Linked DNA regions of Homo sapiens: region 1 is linked to region 2. Evidence: fine-mapped expression QTL. A gene starts in region 2. The other region holds a variant in brackets. All regions are shown on one strand. Distances are from middle to middle.

Region 1 (2,912 bases), 370 kb before region 2:
TTTTGTATTTTTAGTAGAGATGGGGTTTCACCATATTGGCCAGGCTGGTCTCAAACTCCTGACCTTGTGTTCCACCCCTCTCAGCCTCCCAAAGTGCTGGGATTACAGGCGTGAGCCACTACGCCCCGCCTCAGGTAAAAACTTCTAAGTAGGATCACATGAGTGGTAGAGGATGGATTGGTAGCCAACTTTTTGGTCTATGCAACAGGTCTCTGAATTACAGCATCTCCCAGGGACTTGCTAGAAATGCAAACTCTTGGACCCTTATCCTGGTCCTAATGAATAAGAAATTTTGGGGGTGTTGGCCTGTGTGTGTGTGTGTGTGTGTGTGTGTGTGTGTGTGTGTATTTAAGAGATGGGGTCTATGTTGCCCAGGCTGGAGTGCAGTGGCTATTCATAGGTGAATCACAGTGCACTACAGCCTCAAACTCCTGGGCTCAAGTGATCCTCCTGCCTCAGCCTCCCCAGTAGCCGGGACTACAGGCATGCACCACCACTTCCTGTGGCATTTGTGTTTTAACCAGCTTCTCTAGGTGATTGTGATGTATGCTTAAGTTTGGGAACTACTTGTCAACAGGATTAGTGATGCTTTAAAATGTTTTCCCCTCTTTCCTCAGAAGAATTTACTTGACACATTTGATTTAAAAAGTCAGGCCGGGCGCGGTGGCTCACGCTTGTAATCCCAGCACTTTGGGAGGCTGCGGCAGGCGGATCACGAGGTCAGGAAATCGAGACCATCCTGGCTAACACAGTGAGATCCGGTCTCTACTAAAAATACAAAAAATTAGCTGGGCGTGGTAGCGAGCACCTGTAGTCACAGCTACTCGGGAGGCTGAGGCAGGAGAATGGCGTGAACCTGGGAGGCGGAGCTTGCAGTGAGCCGAGATCGCGCCACTGCATTCCCGCCTGGGTGACAGAGCCAGACTCCATCTCACAAAAAAAAAAAAAAAAAAAAAAAAAAGTCATAACCGGGCCAGGCATGGTGGCTCACGCCAGTAAACCCAGCACTTTCGGAGGCTGAGGCAGGTGGATCACTTGAGGTCGGGAGTTAGAGACCAGCCTGGCCAACATTACAAAACCCCGTCTCTACTAAAAATACAAAAATTGGCCAGGTATGTTGGTGTGCGCCTGTGGTCCCAGCTACTTGGGAGGCAGAGGTTGCAGTGAGCCGAGATGGTGCCACTGCACTCCAGCCTGGGCGACGGAGCCAGACTCCATATCAAAAAAAAAAAAAAAAAATCTGCTTTATTCTTTTTAATGGCTGCTGAGTACTCAAGTAGTCCATTTTCTCTGTTGGTGGGCTTTTGTATTGTTTCAAATTTCTTATAGCAACATTGCAATAAATATCCGTGTTTGTGTGTGTATATATACATACACATATATACATACATACATATATATACACATACATATATATACATACATATATATATATATATATAT[ATATTTTTT/T]TTTTTTTTTTTTTTTTTTTTTTTTGAGATAGAGTCTCACTCTGTCACCCAGGCTGGAGTGACAGCCTTGTATATATATTTCTCTGGGCACTTGTGGAAATGTTTTTGTGGAATAAATTCCTCCAAATATTAAAAATATACATGCTAGGTTGTAGGATATGCACATTTGGAATTTTAATAGATATTACCAAATTACACACTAAACGGTTATAGTAATTTACACTCCAATCAAATAGGCATGAAAGTGCCTTTTCTTTTTTTTCATAGCTTCACCAATGTAAGTTACTCAGAGTCTCTGAAATATTTGTTGAGCTAATTGGTTAAAAACAATATCTCAGTTTTTAGGCTGGGAACGGTGGCTAACGCCTGTAATCCTAGCACTTTGGGAGGCCGAGGCGGGTGGATTACCTGAGGTCAGGAGTTCGAGACCAACCTGACCAACATGGTGAAACCCTGTCTCTACTAAAAATACAAAAAATTAGCCGGACATGGTGGTGTGCGCCTGTAATCCCAGCTACTTGGGTTGCTGAGGAAGGAGAATTGCTTGAACCCAGGAGGGTGAGGTTGCGGTGAGCTGAGATCGAGCCACTGCACTCCAGCCTGGGCAACAGAACAAGAAATTGAGACTCCATCTCAAGAAAAACAAAAACAAAAACAAAAACAAAAAAACCCCACAATATCTTTTTTGTTTTGTTTTGTTTTGTTTTTGATTTTTTGACACAGCGTCTTGCTCTGTCGCCCAGCCTGGAGTGCAGTGGTGTGATCTCGGCTCACTGCAACCTCCGCCTCTGGGGTTCAAGTGATTCTCCTGCCTCAGCTTCCTGAGTAACTGGGATTACAGGCGCACGCCACCATGCCCGGCTAATTTTTGTATTTTTAGTAGAGACGAGGTTTCACCATGTTGGTCAGGCTTTTCTCGAACTCCTGACCTCATGATCTGCCCGCCTCGGCCTCCCAAAGTGCTGGGATTACAGGTGTGAGCCACTGCGCCTGGCCCAATATCTCAGTTTTTTAAAGATTGCATTTCTCTAATTACTACAGTATTTGAATCTCTATTGATTTACATATTTTGCAGATACATACAAACCTATCTTCACCTTACCTATCCTTTTCCCTTTTGACTGAGCTATTAACCTTTTACTTATTGATTTGAAAATGTATATCTATCTACAAACATAAGTACACACAGATACATTTTTACACATTTTTTACTTATTAATAACTTTTTTGTGATACATGTGGTTCCCAGTGCCTATCCTCTGACTCCAACTCTCTCACTTTTGAATTTGCTATCAACATCAGCTTCCAGAATTAAACCTCTCTTCTCAGTCCAATAACTTCTGGCTTCATTTGCTTCCCAGACCAGTCTCATCCCCTTTCAGATATTTTTAAACTAGGGTCTTCTGCAATTCTAGAATCTTCCATCTTCAAGATACTGATCAGTTCATCATCTCTCCAATT
Region 2 (2,912 bases):
ACAGGTGTGAGCCACCGCGCCTGGCTAGGTATATTTAAATATACCACACTTTCTGTGTTATTTCCTCTTCCTGGAAGATCTCCCTGAAGGCCAGGCTAGGTGGCTGTCTCAGAATTCTGAGAATATTTCTAACATTAGATGTTCAAGTCTCCACAGACGCTAAAGTCCCTGAAGGTGGTGTTGTAGTCTTCGTTATAGCCAGAGTACTTTTAGCACTCTGCCTAACACAAAAAGGACTGTTTACTTTAGCTGAACTTTGCATACATTCAATGCTTTGTATATCCTTCCCTTTCAACAAAACCCTACTCAAGCTTGAATTCTGTGAAGCTTTCCCTGGCCTCTCCAATAATTAGGAGCTCTGACTCCTTTACTTTACTCACCGCCCCTGAATTGAGCAAGTTATATTTTAATAGTGTATACAACGAATTGCAGTGAATGTTAACACGTTCACCTTTTATTGCTAACAGCAATGCTACCCGTGCTTCCAGGCTCTATCCAAACTCACTGCTTCCAGATAATAGCTGGCTGGTCCCTAGGGAGAATTCTTTAACTCTCAGCATTTGATGCTCAATTCAGTACCTCCTCATATTCAGCACTGTAGCTTACAAGTGCTCTCCGGGTTCCCTTCCTCTCCTCCCCGACAGACTAAACTGCTAGGGTTTGGGACCGCAGTCCTCCTCTCCTCTGACTCCCACCTCTCTGCAGCATTTGGCGCTGCACTTTGCAAACGCAGCTCTAAAGCATCTCCGGGAAGCTCCTGCACAGACCAAAGCCCCCCCGCTCCCTTTTTTTTTTTGAGACAGAGTCTCCTCTCTCGCCCAGGCTGGAGTGCGGTGGCGCGATCTTACTGCAGCCTCCGCCTCCCGGGTTCAAGCAATTCTCTGCCTCAGCCTCCCGAGTAGCTGGGATTATAGGCGCCCGCCACCACGCCCTGCTAATTTTTTTTTTTTTTTGTATTTTTAGTACAGACGGGGTTTCACCTTCTTGGCCAGGCTGGTCTTGAACTCCTGACCTCGTGATCCACCGCCTCGGCCTCCCAAAGTGCTGGGATTCCAGGCATGAGCCACCGCGCCCGGCCCAAAGCCCTTTAAAGACAAGTCTCCGCTTGCGGATTCGCCCGCCAGGTGACAAGGCTTCGTGGGCCAGGACTCCGCCCGCTCCCCGTGGGCTGGGGCGACCCAGGCCAGGAGGGTACACGTGGGACCGGGGGGTAGGGGAATTGCTGGGCCGGCCTTTTCCCCCTGCCTCCCCCGGTTCCTCTGTCCTGGAGGCCGTAGGAGATGCGCAGGACGCCCGCACATGCGCAGTGTCACTCTCGAGCTCCAGACTCGAGCGCGGCGGGCAGGAGGCCCAGGCGGCCCCGGGCTCCCGAGACTGGGCTGCCGGCTCAGGGGCGGGGCACAGCGCTGCCCTCGCCCGCTCATTGGCTCGCGTGCTGACGGACAGGTGGGGCGGACAGCCGGCGAAAGATCTGAGGAGCCGCTGGACTGGAAACTGCTACTGGGCTAAAAATACTTAAGTAAATAAATGAAAGCCTGTGGAGGAGGAGAGGAAGGAGAGGCGGGCGTGGGTTTGGGAGCAACTGAGGCTCCGCTTGCCCCTGGCTGGCGCAGGATGATGGTTCTTGGTTCACTCTCTCCGTCTCCGCTAGAACTGGAGCGGAGAAGTCTGCTTTCTGGAAGGTCGTCCTGGCGGCGGAGTCACACAGGACTTGTTCCCCTGGGACTCTTCATTCCGAGTCTTCATTCCGATTCTTTCAGATCCAGCCTTGAGGCCTCGGGTTCCTGGGAGCAGCTTTGTAGGGCTTGAGAGTCCTAGTCACCGCCACCCTCGGGTCCAGCTCAGGTTGGGGGCTACAGCTCCGTCCCTCCGGCACTTGGGACGACACTCTTTGAACTGGCCTCCCAGCGTCCCGCCTTGCTGGCTGCCGACTAAACTTTTTTTTTTCTTTTTGAGACTGGGTCTCGCAGGTTGAAGTGCAGTGCCGAGACCATAGCTCTTTGGGTGGCTGGGATTACAGGCGCGCGCCACCTCCCCGGCTCTCCGACTAGACATTATTTTATTTTATTTTATTTTTGAGGCACAGTCTCGCTGTGTCGGCCAGGCTGAGTGCAGTGGTGCGATACTGGCTCACTGCAACCTCCACCTCCCAGGTTCAAGTGATTCTCGTGCCTCAGCCTCCCGAGTAGTTTGGATTATAGGTGGGCACCACCACGCCTGGCTAATTCAGTAAAGATGGGGTTTCACCATGTTGGTCGGGCTGATCTCGAACTCCTAACCTCAAGTGATCCGCCCGCCTCGGCCTTCCAAAATGCTGGGATTACAGCGTGAGCCAGTGCGTCCGGCCTAGACATTCTTAAAAGGCAAATTGGAACACATCCTCCGCTTGAAAACGCCAGTGCCCCCTGGGCCAGGGCACCAAGATCCACTTAAAACCCTGCGGGTGAGGCATTAGTGATGAGCTCCTGCTTATCATTCCAGCCATATCAGAGAGGAAGGCCACCAAAGAGTCAGGTCCTTTCAGCCTTGACCCTTGTGCGCACTCTGCCCGCTCACACCCTCTACTTCTTTACTGGAGAAACTCTGACCTCAACGCCCCTCCTGTGCACCTGTGCTGCCCCCAGCCCCACTCCCACCTCGGGACGTTCCTGTCATGCTCAGAGCACGCTGGGGGCCCTGTACCACAACACTTGTCACACCTGCTAGGCTCAGGGACAGTGAACAACCTCAGGGCAGGGGCTGTGTGTGTTCTGGATGTGTATCCCCAAGTCTAGCAGAGTGTGCATAGATAGGGGTTCAATAAATGGATATTGGCCAGGCACAGTGGCTCACGCCTGTAATCCCAGCACTTTGGGAGCCTGGCCAACATGGTGAAAACCCGTCTCTACTAAAAATACAAAAATTAGCTGGGT

Direction of the effects. Alleles are on the strand shown, and positions count from the first base shown. SD is a standard deviation of normalised expression in the study named.
With allele ATATTTTTT in place of T in region 1, the expression in iPS cells of the gene that starts at base 1,291 in region 2 is lower (large effect, 2.0 SD a copy in iPSCORE).

The links. PIP is the estimated chance that this variant, and not a neighbour inherited with it, causes the effect.
Region 1: its variant is fine-mapped to the expression of FALEC in iPS cells (iPSCORE, PIP 0.95).

What each region holds. Positions count from the first base shown.
Region 1 is chr1:150,883,908-150,886,819 of GRCh38, reverse strand. It overlaps a transcript of LOC107985204 not described here. Among named protein-coding and RNA genes, the nearest start is that of CTXND2, 1.8 kb to the left of the region's middle. RefSeq lists cis regulatory regions at 725, 2,490 and enhancers at 653-797, 2,418-2,562. The variant ATATTTTTT/T (reference allele first, on the strand shown) is at 1,444.
Region 2 is chr1:150,514,131-150,517,042 of GRCh38, reverse strand. It overlaps FALEC (focally amplified lncRNA regulator of ECM1), which reads right to left and starts at 1,291. Exons shown (of 6, transcript NR_186305.1): 1 at 981-1,291. RefSeq lists a silencer at 1,097-1,466 and enhancers at 1,557-1,706, 1,777-1,846.